Regions from separate parts of the Homo sapiens genome. Here region 2 is linked to region 1. The links come from fine-mapping of genetic effects on gene expression. A gene starts in region 1. The other region holds a variant in brackets. All regions are shown on one strand. Distances are between the middles of the regions.

What was found.
Region 2: its variant is fine-mapped to the expression of LIMCH1 in sun-exposed skin (GTEx, PIP 0.91).

The regions. Positions count from the first base shown.
Region 1 is chr4:41,533,543-41,542,045 of GRCh38, forward strand. LIMCH1 (LIM and calponin homology domains 1) reads left to right here and starts at 4,615. Exons shown (of 32, transcript NM_001330672.2): 1 at 4,615-4,808.
Region 2 is chr4:41,366,634-41,375,136 of GRCh38, forward strand. It overlaps a transcript of LIMCH1 not described here. Among named protein-coding and RNA genes, the nearest start is that of UCHL1, 110 kb to the left of the region's middle. The variant T/G (reference allele first, on the strand shown) is at 3,952.

The sequences.
Region 1 (8,503 bases):
TCTTCTGCACATATATACCAAATAGAGATGATGTGTTCTCTCTCTTGCCTTCCAAGTAAAAATCCACTTCAAGACATAATTCCTGCCTTTTAGGAGACTACTTTCTAGAAGACAAATATAGAAGAAAGGTCAAATGTAAGGTAGACTGTGAAATGTTAATGAAGTATAATATGCAAGAAAGACCAAGGAAGAAATTTTGATTTGTGATTAAGAACTTTGGAAGGGGTGGGATTTGAACAGGGCGTCTACAAATAGTGAAGATCATGGAGTTAGAGGAAGAACAACTAGCTTCAGGGCATGGAATGAGAAAGGCTCTGAGTCAGAAGGACCTGGGTCTTATCTGGAAGTGGCTATCATTTGCATTATTTGCACTGGGTCCAGTGGCTGCAGCTGGACGCAGAGTCCCTGAGAAAATCCATGCTTGGAAACTAGACCAGGAATAGTAAGCTGAGACCAGAAATGCCATCTGGGGGTGTTTGGACTCATTTTGTGTGCAGTAAAAGCCACTGAAAACAAGGGAATCTCGTGTTCCAGATAACTGAGGTGGCCGTATAGAAAGCTGATTATGGCAAGATACCAGCAATAAAAGTCAAGTAGGAGATAAGTAGTCCAAATGAGAGAGGATGGACACTTAAACCTTAGTAGAAGCAGTGGGATTAGAGATGAGGAGACAGGATTTACTTTTCACTAAATGTAATATGCCATCAATGATGACACACACCATTTTTAAAAATTATAGCTCATTTAAAAAAGCTGCCAATTCAATGATGACACAATGCTAAGACACTGGCAATGAAAAAAATGCATCTTTATTTCAGAGGTTAAAAAAGGTGTACATCTTAGAACTGATGAAATACAACAGATAATTTTAGGAAGATGACATTTGCATTTTGGACTTGAGCAGTGTGGAGGGTACTGATGCCATTAATAGGAATCATGGGAACATGGGAATGAGAAATGAGCTCCAAAAGAAAAGATGCATTCTCTTTTGGACATATTGAGTTGGCTATCTCTAAAAGATATTCATGTGCAGATGTCTGGCAGACTATTAGAAATGCTGGTTTGGAACTCAAGGAAAAAGTTACAAAAAATTGGACTAGGTTAATGGATGGACTATTTTGAAGTTAAATCCTATGCTTCAGTATAAATGAAGACATATTTTTTTTTTCTATAACCACTATGAAGTTCCCCTCCCCCTCCAAATTATAGTATTGTCTTTGGAGTGTTTGATCCACATTGGCAGGGACTGGGATATGGAGAAAGGAGTGAAAAAAGGAGTTTGAGACTACAGGAAAAGTCATTAGCAATTGCACTTAGAATTGAAAATCATGACAGAAAGACCGGTGCAGTGGCTCATGCCTATAATCCCAGAACTTTGGGAGCCTAAGGCAGGTGATCGCTTGAGCCCAGGAGTTCAAGACCAGCCTAGGCAACATGGCAAAATCTTGTCTTTACTAAAAATACAAAAAATTAGCCAGGCATGGTTGTGCATGCCTGTAGTCCCAGCTACTTAGGAGGCTGAGGTAGGAGAATCACCTGGGCCTGGGAAGTCAAGCCTGCAGTGAGCTTTGAATGTGCCACTGGACTCCAGCCTGGGTGATGGGAGTCGGACCCTGTCACAAAAAAAAAAAAAAAAAAAAAAGAAAAGAAAAGAAAGATCTTCATATAATTGACAATTCATTGAGATATCATATCCATCCAATCTTGTGCCCTGCAGCCTCTCTTATACCCCTGATATTTCATTCTTAGTACTAGATGAGTATATTAATTTGCTCTGATGGCCATAACAAAGTACCACAGATTGGATGGCTTAAATAATAGAAATTTATTTTGTCAATTCTGTAGGTTAGAAGTCTGAGATCAAGGTGTGATCAGAGTGGGTTTGTTCTAAGGCCTGTCTCCTTGGCTCCCAGATGGCTGCCTTTCCCTGCATCTTCACGTGGTCTTTCCCCTGTATGTATCTGTGTCCATATTTTGCCTTTTTATAAGGACACTGTCGTATTGGATTAGGGCCCCCTCAGATGACCTCATATAACTTAATTACCTTCTTACAGTCACTACAGTCACATTCTGAGTTAGAACGGGTTAGGAGTTCAAGATACGAATTGGGGGAGGGAGGAGGAGACAATTTAGCTCGTAACAGTGGGTTAGCCAGCTAAGCCCTTAAATTCTTATTCACGTGTGTTTTGAATGCCTAGACTTGCTAGCTGAAGTCTAATATCCTCTTTCTGCACCACCACAAACTATTTTTCCAAATTTGTTTCCATAATTATTCTGTGTCTCTGCAGAGGTGGAAGGTTATATATAGCAGTGCTGTAAAGCTTTTTTTTCCCCAACTTCATTTTTTTTTCCCTTTCCTGTTCCCGAAAAAACAAAAAATGCCATTCTTTGAAGAAAGAAACCACTTGTTCTCCCTTATCTTTCGTTGAACAGCGTTTAGCAGAATTTGTGACATTACATCAGTTCCTCACTTTTTTCCCTTAGGAATAGACCTTCAATTACAAACTGTGAGCAAAAAATATATAATAGCAGGAAATACATATTTCAGCTGACGTCTGACTCCTTTTTTTCCATAGTTATAGCTTACCTAGAGGATAACTTTCTGTGGAACTAATTCTTAGCATGTATTCCAAACCCAGGTTTATAGGGATTTGGTTGTTTGACAACAGGAAAAAAATACCACCAAATGTATGAAGTATGAGACCATGCTAGGCTGAAACAGCACTTCTCTTAAAACGTGCCTTCCTCTGGATTGTTTTTGTAGGAAGTTTGTCTTGGCAAGCATTTCAAAAGAACTCGCTAGACGCCTCTCTTGTAATTAGCTGGCTTTCTGCTAGAATGTTAGGTCTACCTTCATCTCAAATGGTACAAAAATTAATTCCTCTCTGTCGCTCTGTCCACAGTATAAAATACTAGATTTCTGAGTAGTTTGATATCTAATTTTTCCTTTCTAAAATTTAACTATATTCAGTTTAAGTTTTTGATTTAACTTAAACATAACATTAAAAATAGGATGATTGATATAATGTTATATAGGAATGGTACTTTTCCTCTTTTCCCTCAGTGTTAAAAGAATGGTACTTTTTCCTCACAAAAACCTATATCCCCAGCCATGGAAAGAATATCAGACAAACCTAAATGGAAGGATATTCTACAAAATACCCGACCAGTATTCTTCAAAACTGTCAAGGCCATCAAAAGCAAGGCATATCTGAGAAACAAGGAAAGTCCAGAAAAAGTTAAGGAGACATAATGATTAAATATTATATGGCATTATAGATGGGATCTTAAAACAGAAAGAGCATATTAGGGAAAAACTAATGAAATCCAAATAAAACATGGATTTAGTTAATAGTAGTGTACCAGTGTTTATTTCTTAACTGTGATAAATGTAGATGTACCATAGGAATGTAAGATGTAAGACATGAGTTATACTGAAACTCTGCATATTATCTTTGTAGCTTTCTATAAATCTAAAAACTATTCTAAAATAAAAAGTTCACTTAAAGTAGGATGAATGACAATAAAGATAAAAGAGCATAATGCAAGGAAACTATGAAATAGGTAAGGAAATACAGAAGTTATTAATAAATATTAAATGTCAGCCTACCACTTGATGTATTTGTGTCAATAAATGGCAGGATACCAGTGAGTCCATTGGCATATTAATCCAATAAACTTTTATAAATGATGAATTGGTTGTAAACATTGTGTTTTATAGCATTTGAAAATTCCAAATGGTAACTCCGCACACGATGCTTCTGCTCACATATTTCAGCATCCTGCTTTTAGAATCTGCAGAAAGAAATAGTTCATGTCCTTTAGGGAGGTTTAATAAAAAGCAACAGGTGGAAAATGGATTTTGCAGTAGCATGAACAGCCATAACCATAAATACTAGTACCTCAGAATTATACCAGCAGAGGACTGTAAACACATTAATCTCCCAGCAGTGCAGAAATTCCATTCTCAGATGTCATCTCAATTTCAGGCACAAAGATTGAATGCCTCCATTTAAATTCAAAACACTGAAGGAATATGATGATCCTTTTTTTTCATGGGGATTCATGGAGTGAGTTTGCCAGTTTCCTCATCTATAAGATGGGGTTGATAAATCCCATCTCAGCATTGTGGGATTAAATGAGATGATATACATAAAATACCTAATATGATGGATGGTACACAGGATGTTTTCAATAAATGGTAGTTTACTTTTTATTATGCTCATGAACATTAGGATGGTCTTAGAATCCCAGAACTAGAAGCCACTTAGAGATTTACTTTTTGAAACATTGTTATTTTACAAATAAGGAAACTGAGACCAGAAGGCAGTGACTTGCCTGGAGTCAGGCAGCAACTTTGTTCCAGAGTTGGGACTGGAGTGAGTCTTTGTTCCTCGGGTCCCACTTGGGTGCTTTTTCTAGATCCAGATTTCCTGACAGTACTGCAAACCTACTGTGTGCTAGTGGCTGACACAAAGCTCTCTGCACAATTCCAATCCTGGCATCTCTACTTCTGAAGATGCCATTCCTTTTCCTCAGAGGGAATGGGCTTCTCCGCCTCCCTCTCCAATAGGTGTGGCAATCAGCTGTCTTCCAGTTCCCTTTCACTGCATCAGCATTTCAGCCGCAGCAGCCTGCTTGTGGACAGAGCAGGGGTTGGCAGTGGTGACGACTGTTTTGGGAAAGGAAATGTAAGGGCATTTCGGCTGCTGTGCTGGGGCTGACGAGGAGCACACAGGAGAGATGCCCCTCCCATCTCCCAGAGTGGGTTGGCTGGAGTTCATTGCGGAGCATGAGGACGTGTGGGGGTAAGTAAAATTCATTATAAAAGAAATACATGCTTAGGGGTATCCATGATGGAAAGAAGGAAGCTATTTAGACTTTAATACTTGGTTTAAAAAAAAGTGACTTTTTATTCACTTATTAGTATGGCGAAAATAATATGAAAATTACTTTCCTGTGGATTCATCTTGTCCTTTGATAACTGTTAGCACCTGTTGCTTTTAATTAAGCTTTTTTTTTTTTTTAATTCCCTAAGGAAAGCATTGTTTTTTATTTTCCGGTATGTGGTACAAGACACATAACTCCATTAGTTTAGTCAAAATAAAAAGGATTTTTGAGAATTTTGAGAATGAGAAGCAACTTGGCTGCATTTTTAAGATGTGGTCCAGCAGCACATGGTGTTGTGGGGGAGATGTGGCTGCATTCATGGTGGGGCTGCTTCACCTGAGCCCCTGTCACATTCTGCTCCTGACTCCACAGCCCCCTTTGCTTTTTAAAAACTTCCATTTCTTAAAATGAGGAGGAAAAGAAGCAAGGAAGACATTGGGGAGGCAGGGAGGAGTCTGGAGGGAAGGGCTGCATCTCCAGCCTTGCCCACTTAGTCCTTGTCCTTCATAGTCACTATTTACTGCAGGCCGGGAAAGGAATGGGGGTTATTTCTGGACAATTGTCTCATAAAATCCCGTCAGACCCGTCTGAATGCTAAACGTTCCATGGCACTGGTTATCTAGGGGAAGAAAATTTTCCTTAGCCAAATTTATGAGGCTGGGTTGAAAATCAGGTTGAAACAGAGCCTGGCGAATCCCTATGGCAAAATGATTCATCTTTGTGGAGTCGGGAAATCTATTTTTATCACCTTTATTCAGCCAGCTCCTGATTGTGATTCTCTCACTGAGCTACAGCCGTTTTCTTCATGGTGCTGAATAGACCAAATGTCTCAGGAGTCTGAAACTTCTCTCCTGCCACTCCCAGAGTGGCTGATTCAGCAGTCCCGGGAGAAGGGGTTTGTCCTGTGCTGCGCGGGTGGGTTCCGCACAAGGTGAAGGTCAAATAAAACCGAGAGGCTGCAAGTGTCAGCAGCCAGCCTTTGACTCAGGAATCCTGCCTGAGGGTATGTGCCACTCTGCTCTCCTGCTCTCTCTGTAAGGTGACTAGAAGGTGACTGGGCAGCCATAACTCCTCCAATTTTGAAGACCTTCCCAAGGGAAGAAGGGGCAAGAATAAGCCACCCTCCTTACAGCTGCCAATACATCTCCTCAATCTAATCATCGGGCAGAGAGGGACTTCCTAACACCGTTGTATTCATTTTCCCATTTCCATTTAGTTCTGTAACTATGCATTCCAGGCTGATACATAGTCCTAGCTGGTTCTTGCTGGAGTCCCAACTAATGCTGAGAGGAGTGGCAATTGTTCTCTATAATAAAGTTTAAAGGATAAAGATATGGAAGAAGAACTCACTCTTGAGTTTCCTTTTCTAATGGATTCAGCATGCTTACTCTCTGGGAGCTATAACAAATGGCAATTAGGAAAGCAACAGGAATGTTGACTAGACAGGAACAGTGACCATGGCTGTTGGGGGTATTCCCTGCACCTGGTATATAGTAGACACTCAATAACAATTTGGGAAATGAATGACCAGGATACTGTTCCCCATAGGCTTCAGTTGGCCTTCTTAAGAGCTCTCCTTCAGGACATAGTATGCAGGGCAGCTAGGAGCTGACATTCTAGAGTGAGATGGCCTGAGTTCAAATCCTGGATTTGCAGCTTCTCAGTTGTGTGCTGATCTTTGGCAGGCAACACAATCGTTTGTTTCCTCGTCTGTAAAAATGGACATAATATAGTAACTACCTTATGTGGTTTTCATGAAGAGTAAATTAATTAATATAGGTAAAGAGTCTAGATTTTTTTTTCTTGTCATGTGGTTCAAGATATGAAGAAGAAGAAAAACAGGAGTAGGAAAAGAAGGAGAAAGAGGAGGAGGAGGAACTTTGGCTGTTGGGATAAATTTGGGACCCTTTGAGATTTTGGCCCTGCCTTTTAGGTTGAATATTTCCCTAAAATCATGATTCAGTGATTTTTAAACCTTCTCTTGTCCTGTAGAGAGAATAATTTGAGAATAAAAGAATAAAACGGGCCAGATGCAGTGGCTTACGCCTGTAATCCTAGCACTTTGGGAGGCTGAGGCAGGTGGATCACCTGAGATCAGGCGTTCGAGACCAGCCTGGCCAACGTGGCGAAACTCTATCTCTACTAAAAATACAAAAGTTAGCCGGGTGTGGTGATGGGCACCTGTAATCCCAGCTATTCAGGAGGCTGAGGCAGGAGAATCGCTTGAACCCGGGAGGTGGAGGTTACAGTGAGCTGAGATCGCACCACTGCACTCTAGCCTGAAAAGAAAAAAAAAGAATAATAAAATGGATTTCAGGGGGAAAATGATGACGAATTATTGCCAAGAGTTATTGAACTCCTGCTCCTTGCCAGGTACTAACCATATTCAGTGTTGAAACAAACTGTCAGTCCTTGCCCTGATGGACGCTGCAGTTGACTTTCAAGGGCTGCTGGGCAGTGTGAATTCAATGGCTCAGCGAACACAGCTGCTACGTTCCTTGTTCTCTACCTTTTAAAAAGGAATGTTGAGTAGATCTAGAAGGATGAAGCTTTAAACTTAGCTCCCAACAGGAAATGAGGAGTGAGGAAGTAGGGAGAGATTTGTGTGTGTGTGGAGTAGCAGATGAAGTCTAACTGTACAGCAGTATAAAGGCAGTGAAAGAAATGTAGACGTGGGCATTGGATTGAACCATGAAACTGAAGGGAAATCCAAAGCAGTAATGTATCATCAACCTGTGAAATGTAAAGAAGCACAGGTAAGTAGTGAAAGAATGAAGGAACCAAAGCAGTTGTTGTAATGATATAAAATAAGAGCCATAGCTTATTAGACCCTTAGAGTCCCAAAGCCCAGCCTTGAGAGTGTAGATTCGGGAAGGCTGGATTCCTTTGGCATCCTCTCTTTTCAGCTCTGGGTACTGCCGCAGCAGGTGAGCTTGTGTTTGGTCCCTTTCAGAGTCTGGAGTCTCCCATCTCTTGGAAATACAAGGATATGTATGAGCTACCAACTCCCATCTGGCTTTACTGGTCTGTGAAACATTCTATTTTAATTTGGTGAATCCTTTTTTGACTCTAGAGATCTTCAGCAGTACCTGCCCTTCACACCGTTTCCTCACCTTTGCCAGATCTGCTTTTGAGTAGCAGTTTTATCCCTAGATGTCTTATAGCCCAGACCTGGTAAATCACCAATGTGAATTATAGAACAGGATCATTTTTCATCCTGCTTTCATCCCAGTGGCTGGATTAATTTTTGGATCTCTGCTTTCTGTAAGCAGTCATTTCTTCCACAGCAGCCATCTGTGAAGAAACAGAGCTTACGAAATGACTGGGGCATGTTTTACATGGCTGTGCTCAGTTCCTTCTGTTTGATTCCCATGTAAGCTTTGGCAGTGATTTCCACAAGCGTTTCTGTGGGAGGTGCTGGAGAATGACTTTGGTAAACAGCCCCTTGGCTATTGTTGGCCCTTTCCCTGCAAATACCATAAAGGACACAACTTGAAAAGTCGCTCTGGTTTCTGAGCCCCTCCTAGGGCCCACCCCAGGTCCGACATCTGAAAAGCCGAACTCAGCCATGCTTGTGGTAGAGCAGCGATGTGGACTGCGTCTGTGTTTGCCT
Region 2 (8,503 bases), 170 kb before region 1:
GAGGGCTAAAGATAATATAGGGGAAAAATAGTTCTTAAAAAAATGATAGAATATTGGAAAGACTTCTGTCTGGACATAAGATGTTATATTTCAAGGAGGAATGATGCCGTGGAATTCAGTTCTGCTGTGATAAAATTCCATGTTTGCAATATTGAAAACAACACTTCCAAAGAGATGCCCATGCATCTAACCCTGATGGGATGTGTATTAGTTCATTTACATACTGCCATAAAGATACGACCTGAGACTGGGTAATTTATAAAGAAAGGAGGTTTAACTGACTTACAGTTCCACGTGGCTGGGGAGGCCTCAAGAAACTTATAATTATGATGGAAGGCAAAGGGGAAGCAAGACAGGTCTCATATGGTGGCAGGAGAGAGAGAGCAAGCGAAGAGGGAACTGCCAAATGCTTTTAAAACCATTAGCTCTCATGAGAACTCACTCACCATCATGAGAACAGCATGGGGTAACCGCCCCCGTGATCCAGTCATCTCCCTGCAGGCTCCCTGTCCTGACATGTGGGGATTACAACTTGAGATGAGATTTGGGTGGGGACACAGAGCCAAACCATATCAGGATGGCTAGTGTATCTCAGGGAATTACCTTTGGCATCAGGAAAAGGACAGATGATATAGTCATATAAAATGCACCTAAGAAATAACTTGGCTGATACCTTTTCCCACTGTCAGCAAAACTGTGCTCTATGCTGAGACCTTAAGAATAAAATATTGGTTAGGTTGGGAAAGCTCCATGTTTCCACTGTCCTGCATTTTGCCTGTGAGAGTTACTCTAGTGTGGCTGTTGGAGGCTGCAGCTTGGCCTCCTGGTCAGTGTAAGTTAGGGACTGCCCCACCCATTCACCCCTAGATAGCCCATTAGGAGGCCATGGAGGAATACACCTGCACTTGCTTTTAAAATCAAGGTCGGCTAGGTGCGGTGGCTCACGCCTGTAATCCCAGCACTATGGGAGGCCAAGGCTGGTGGATCATGAGGTTTGGAGATCCAGACCATTCTGGCTAACACAGTGAAACCCTGTCTCTACTAAAAATCCAAAAAAAAAAAAAAAAAAAAAAGGAAAGAAAAATCATCCGGGCGTGGTGGCAGGCACCTGTAGTCCCAGCTACTCGGAACGCTGAAACAGGAGAATGGTGTGAACCTGGGAGGCGGAACTTGCAGTGAGCCAAAATCGCGCCACTGCACTCCAGCCTGGGCGGCAGTGCGAGACTCCATCATAAAAAAAAAAAAAAAAAAAAGAAATCAAGGTCAAGAACAGAAGGACTTGTAGCTTTTTCATTTCCATGACTGAAAACTGTTAAAAAAAATTCCTCAGCCTTATTTTTTTGCCAAGTATGTTCACCAAATGGGTCTGCACCAAGTGAGGAACTGAAGTTATATTTATTGCAATGAGTACATAGCTATCTTTTTCTCCCCTCAGAAGTGTTTAAAAAATATTTTGAACAATTATTTTATTTTAATTGAATATCTTATTCCAATTGAAATGGAATGAAAGCGACAATAAGCTCAGTCAAATTGTTAAAATATGAAAATAATTATTTGGGAGACTTGGCTATCACTCATTTGTAAGTTTGCTTCAGTATAAACAGTGGCAAAAATAAGCATTAATATTTTAATGTGTGAAAGTGTGCTTTCAAAAATTATTTCCTGAAAAGTGTTTACTGAGCTCCAACAATGTGCAGCATAGTGTTAGGCATGGTGTTAGGTAATGAACAAAATAAACATACTTCCTGCCCTCATGAAATATACAATGTGGCAGGGGGACAGAGAGATTAAACAATACATATATAATTACGATTTGGAATACATACTATGAAGACAAAGAATGGGGCAGGGGGGATTAAGAGAAAAGCACTCTTTAAAAAGACAAGGATTCTTAGTGAAAATAAGATTTAAGCTAAGACCACGGAAGAATTCTAAGCAGGAGAATTTGATTGATGATGATTTATTGAGAAAAGGGCTTGCGTTGGATGCTACACATACTTTTATTATGATTGTGTTTTGAAACAAGGTAGGGTAGAAACACTCTTAAATTTCTCTAGGTCTATTGAAGGTAGATATGTGTTGGTGGTAGGGCAGGGGGTGAAGGTACCTGCCTCGGAAGTTCTTGAATATTCCTTGCAGGCCACTCAGAGTTTGCATGATGATCCACTGTCCATTTTACATCTGAGGCACAGATAAGAACTCTTCTAAGAAAAATGCGGAGAGGACTTTGGGATTTGTGTTTGAGCCTAGACTCTGGATTAAAATTCTTGGACAAAATAGAGGCTGTAGAGGCTGTACTCCACTCTTAGCAGGAAGGGGCTGCGGGAAACCTGCTTGCTTTTCAGTGAGGGAAGAGAGCCATTTTGTGTGAGACTTAGGGTGGTGACCCACAGATGTCTTCTCATTTGGGAACTTTTCCCAAATTCTTCCAAAAGAGGGGGCTTTATAAACTACTAAAGCCAGGTGCCCTTTGGGATCCTCATAAATTGTAAACCCTGGAGGTCCTTGACTGAGATTCCTTTCAACACTTGAACTACCATTCTTAGACCCCCTCCCCCATCTTCCCAGTCTAACATGGCTGCTGGAGAGTCGTGATCACATCACCTTTCCAGGAAGCTGGATGGAGGCAAGGAAAGTGAAGAGTGCATCCTTCCCATATAAGGTGGCTTCTGGGAAACCCTTTCTGACATACTGGCTACTATTTTATTGCCCAGAACTTCAGGAACATGGCCCTTTCTGTATATAGGAGAGACTCTGGAGAAGGATCTTTTACCCCAGGCAGGAGTAATGCTCAGATAATATTCTTGAGTTGTATTCCTCAGGAAAAAGGGGAGAATGGCTATTGGGGTAGCCACAACCTGGAATGCCCCTTCTCCACTTCTCCAGGGACAAATCCTTTCAAGATAGAGCTTAAACCCGACTGCCTCTGCAGCATGGTCCCTGATTCCTCTAAGCTCATTAATCCTTCCCTTCTTTGTACACACCTGAGCCTCAGTTTTTGCCTTTTTTTTAGAAAAGTTGCTGTATTTTACTATCACGAATTTTTTTTGTGTGTGTGTGTGGTGGGGGGATTTGCCTCCTTTGGTGAACCCCAGAGCCCTGTGGCCAAGGACTGCGTCTTAGTCATCACCCTGTTCCCTCCTTGTTTCAGCCAGGCTGTTCCTCACTAGGGCCTCACAGCCACATTTCCCCACTGCCTGAGCGCTTTCTCAGTGAGTCTGTGCCCAGCTACGGTTGCCTGATTGGCACTTGGACTTGGCTGTGGCAGAGAAAATAGACTCTGTTGCTGCCCTGACAGGAAGCAAAGTGTGTGTGTGTGTGTGTGTTTTGTAGTGATTAAAAAAAGCAGTTTACCCAATAGTTGCCTGGAGACAGTCAGTGATTGGACACTCGGAGGGTGATTTCTCTGTTGGCCCTTGGGTGAAGATATTCTTTAGGGTGCTAACCCTCCCCTCAAGTTAGACTGGGTCAGGGCTCGTTGGAGTTCCTGGCTGCAAGGCGGGAGAGCAGACATCTCTTTTCTTTAAATAAACATGCCCCCAGCATTCGGCCTTAGGGCTCTCACCTTCTCTTTCTTTCCCTAAGTCAAAGCAAACCTCTCTTTCACCTGTTATAGAAGTCTAGCTAATTCCCACTTCTTAGGATGAGGGAAAGATAGAGCACTTCCAATGATAGTGAATCTAAAAAGAAATGGAAGAATTTTTATTATAGTGGTCACCTGTATGAGTTCTTATTAGACAGGTATTTTTAAAGGAAAAAAACCCAAAATAACTGACTAGTAGCTGGTATCCATGGTATCAATAAATGGCCACGGCTGTGACTGTTAATTGTCATGACCCAATGGGAGCACTGAGAAATAGCATCCCCTCTTCTTTTCCTATGGAAAATTAAAAAAAAAGTTGCCTGTGGAGCTGAATGTTGTCATCAGCCAACAGATGAGGTTGCCACCTT[T/G]TTCCCTAAGGGACCATGCAAGATGTCATAAATAGGAGGGGCCAGTGACAAGTAGAAGCCTGATTCATTATGCTGTTAGAGTTGACAGAGTGTGATAATAGTGATAAAAATGGCTAGTTCAGTGCCAAATAAAAATAACAGCAAACACACTTCTGGAACACTTACCATGTACAAGCGGTAGTCTAGGAGCTTGCTTGAGTGGTAGTGTAGGTGCTTGCATGAGGTGGTATATTGTGTATAGAACAAACACCCAGCACAGTGCCTGATATATAAGATACTTCTCAAGCAAGCACTGTTTATGGCCGTTTTACAGATGGGAAAATGGAAGCACGGAAATGGTAAGTGATATGCTTGAAGCCACACAGATAATCAGTGGCAGAGCTGGGATTTGAACCCAGGCAAACTGGTTCCAGAGCTTGGACTGGTGACTGCTGTGTCCCGCTGCCTTATCCTTAACAGCTGCTCCGTATATATTTACTTATTGGAAAAAGTACCTTTGCAGAGTTAGTATTTGGGACCCTTTAGAAGTAAAAGCGAAACTTCTAAAAAGATCATGGTCCCAAGTAACTACCTAACCAAGCAGGTGACCTGCCTCTCTCCTTCTCTCTCTTCATTCCCTTAATGGTTCAATATGCTGTTTATTGAGCATCTTCTATATACATAGCACCGTTAGTTGCGAGGAAACAATTTCATCCATATGGCTCCCAAGCACATTCTCTGAAACTGGAACCCTTTCAATATGTTTTAAAAGATAATTGTCAGTAGGGTGGTTAGGACCATGATGAAAAATCATTACAGGAGCCCAATGAACCATCATCAGTGGGTGGAACCATTTTTACTCCCTTTCACTTCACGTCTATTTCCCCAGTCTTTTTCTCCTTGATTGGAACCTGACTCCCCCACTGGATTCAAATAGTCCTTGATGCTGAGATCCAGACTGGAATGATTATAAACAAGGGGAAGGAAAATGTGGATTTAGGGTGCCTCCCTGCCAGGCACCGTTAGTTCTTTGCGTATGGTATTCTGTTTAGTCTTTGTGTAACACAGGTATCTGCTGCCCCCGTCCCAGTTTGAAGTTCTCTACTGTGCCTGTTTCAATAAATTTCACCCATGTTAAGACTGGCAGGCCTGATCCCACGTAGCTCCTGAGTCCCCACATAGTGCCCACATGATAGTTCTTCTTTTGGCCTCATCTGGCACCTCCCAACAGCAGCTCCACTCTTAGACCTCTCATGTGGCACAGGCTCTGGCATTCTGAACAAATATAGTTGGCTATTTTATAATGTCGGTTTCTGTAATGAGGATTATTACATATGCGATTGGGAAATAAGAGAAGCATGCTTGGTAAGGTGCAAGTTGCGATGGTTCATGTGAGATTTTTATTAACACTTGCGTATTTTGTACCACCAAATAGCAGTAGTTGAAAACAAAATAGGATAGTAGAGGTGAACACAACCAGCCAGGGAGGTGAACACCCCTCTTTTTGCTCTAGACTCCATTTGGCTTTGTGTTGATTGAAACGTCTGCTTTTCCCAGATCTTTCTGCATTTTCCTCTCATCTCCATAATGCAGCAGTCTCGGTCTTTCCTCACACCCTTCCACCATGCGCTCTTGCCCCCCACCTTTTTGTGTAATCTTCCGTTTGTTCTGTAATAGGAAATAGAAAACATCTTTTTATGTGTGCTGGTAATTTTTAGTGTTCTTGTTTTTGTTACTGCTCTGGTTACAAAGTTGAGTAGGGTTTGGGCCTTTTACATGAACTCTGTATTTTCCACAAGCCCTGTTATTTTTAGTGTGAGATTTTGTAGGATACAAGGTTTTTGGCTGGCTGTCTTAGTTTGGGACATTATTCATACATTTACAGGAATATGGATACTGTTTTATGGTAGAAATACATAGATATTAATAGTTTGGGCAGATAGTATCTCTCACACACTTACCCACACAGATGCATACATAAAACAATACCTTGAAGATTCCCAGTGCTGGAGCCTGGGATCTTGGGTCATATGGAAAATGTTTTCTTTAGGAATTTCACATTTCCTATCTGCTATCAGAAGACCTTGGACAACATTTCCAGGAGAAGCTTCTGTTGCCTTTGGAGGAGGTAGTTGAATATTGTCTGTGTGTGTGTTTTTCTGATCCATTTTTCTTTGAGATTTTGTGCCTGGGTACTACATAAAGCAGCACTGTTTTCATCCAGGAAACCTACAGGAGTTACTTATTGTGAGTGAGAAGCTTAAGTGAGTTGGAAATGAGGAAACTGAGACTTGAGGGTTGGCAATTTGTCTGAGGGTCAGTGACTTCTTGGCTGCGATTATTCCTGTTCTCTGGAGCCCTTTCTACACCAGTATATGAGTATTGGCAATTTGTCTCCGTTTGGGACATCATTCATTCATTCATCATATAGTTATTGAGCGTGTCCTAGGGACTCAGTAGTATGAGAGACAAATGTGAGATTTCCATTCCACCTGGAAGGATGGACGCTGAGCACAGAATCACGCGTGTGATGCATGCTTGGAAAGGGAAGAGCAAGTTGGTCTGGAACACAAAAAGGGCCGGGATCTCCTTTGGTCTAAGGGGCAATGGGACAGCCTCTCTGAGGAAGTGCTATGTAAGCTGAGACCCCAAGGATGAGCAGGGGTTGGCCATGCAAAAATGAGCAAGAAATCATGTTCTAGGCAAACACTTCAGGCTGTAGTGTTTGCCTTAATGGAAGAGCTGAAGAAGACCAGTAAGGCAGGAGCTTTGGGAGTAGGTATGAGGGAGGTGCAGGATGAAGCTAGAGTGGGCTGCAGGAAAGCTGCATGGTCCTGGCACCGAAGATAGGAATCCTCCGTGCTTCTTGGCCCGGCCTGGGCCATGGCTGGCCTTGTCTGGGAGGACAGCAGTTGGATTTTCTCCAAACTCTCTCAAATTACTATAGTTCCTGACAAAAGAATAGAAACATAGCTAACATTTATGAGAGCTTATGGCCTGGCAAATTCTGTCCTAAGCACCTGACTTTTCAACCATCCTATGAGCTAGCTACAAACTCTTATTACTCCCATTAAACCTAGAAATGAGTGAATGGCTAAGGGTTTTACGGTCATTAGGTGGTAGAGCTGATCTTCAAACTCATGCAGTCTGGCTGCTTTACCTGTGCTCCTAACCACCATGCTATGGGGTGTGATATGGTTTGGATTTATGTCCCTGCCCAAATCTCATGTTGAATTGTAATCCCCAATGTTGGAGGAGGGGCCTGGTGGGAGGTGACTGGATCATGGGGGCAAATTTCCCCCTTGCTGTTCTTGAGATAGTGAGGGAGCTCTCACGGGATCTGGTTGTTTAAAAGTGTGTAGTACCTCCCCCTGCTCTCTCTTCCTCCTGTTCCTACCATGCAGGACATGCCTACTTCCCCTTCTGCCATGATTGTAAGTTTCCTGAGTCTCCCCAGCCATGCTTCCTGTAGAGCCTGCAGGACTGTAAGCCAATTAAACCTTTTTTCTTTATAAATTACCCAGCCTCAGGTAGTTCTATATAGCAGTGTGAGAACAGACTAATACAGGGTGCAAATGCAGGCTGTTGACCAAGGGTGTCTGTGAGGGATATTGATGAGGGGGAACAGCAGTAAAGAGCTGGGGGCAGGAGGGTAGAGGTAGGGGATGCCTAAGGATGCTGGAGGCCAGTGTTGGCTTTAGACATGTTTTCTGTATTTTAAAAGAAACTCCAAAAATAAGTCCTCTCACCTTGACAGTTTTGCCACCTGGGAAGGAGAGTGATTGTATAGAAAGAGTGCTCCAGGCATCTCCCAAACCCCACATTCTAATGCATGGGGACTCTGGTTCCCAAGCAGCCTGATGAACCCTGGTATTGCTCTGACATGATAGGCCACTCATTTTTAACTTCCATCAAGAGTTGTAAGTAGTATGATATATTTAAAAATGTATTTCTTATTTTATTTTAAACTCTGTGTGTGTGTTTAATAATTTTTTTCATTCAATTTTTTTTTTTGTTTTAGTTAGCATTCTTATGGTTGCAAGCAACAGAAATCCAACCAAAACTGGCTCTAAAAAATAGACAGTTGATTGCTCATTGACGTTCTGGAGGTAGATCCCTACTTCATACAAAGGCTGACTCAGCAGCTCAATGATATCAGTAAGGATCTGGATTCTCTCTCTCTTTCCACCGTGCTGTGCATTGTGTGGCTTTATGCTCTGGCTTTACATAGGGCCTCCACACCTGCCCTACCCCACTTCAGAAGGTCCAGGCTTTTCCACTAAAGGCTGGCTGGGAAAGAGCGACTCCAGTCCTCAAGTTCTCTTTACACCCTCTGGGCAGAGAAAGAGGACACATTCTCATTCATGATCACCAGGGAAATAGATGAGTTGATTAGCCTAAGCCAATCAGACTTCACCCTGGTCCGTCCCTATCAAAGATGCTGGCTGCTACCCAACAGAGAAGCAGTGAATTCCCTAGAGGAAAATCTGGGTACTTTTAGTAGAAGAATGGGTAAAGTGGATGCCAAAGAGGCTACCACCAATTGTTACTAACATTTTATTAAAAATGTGGT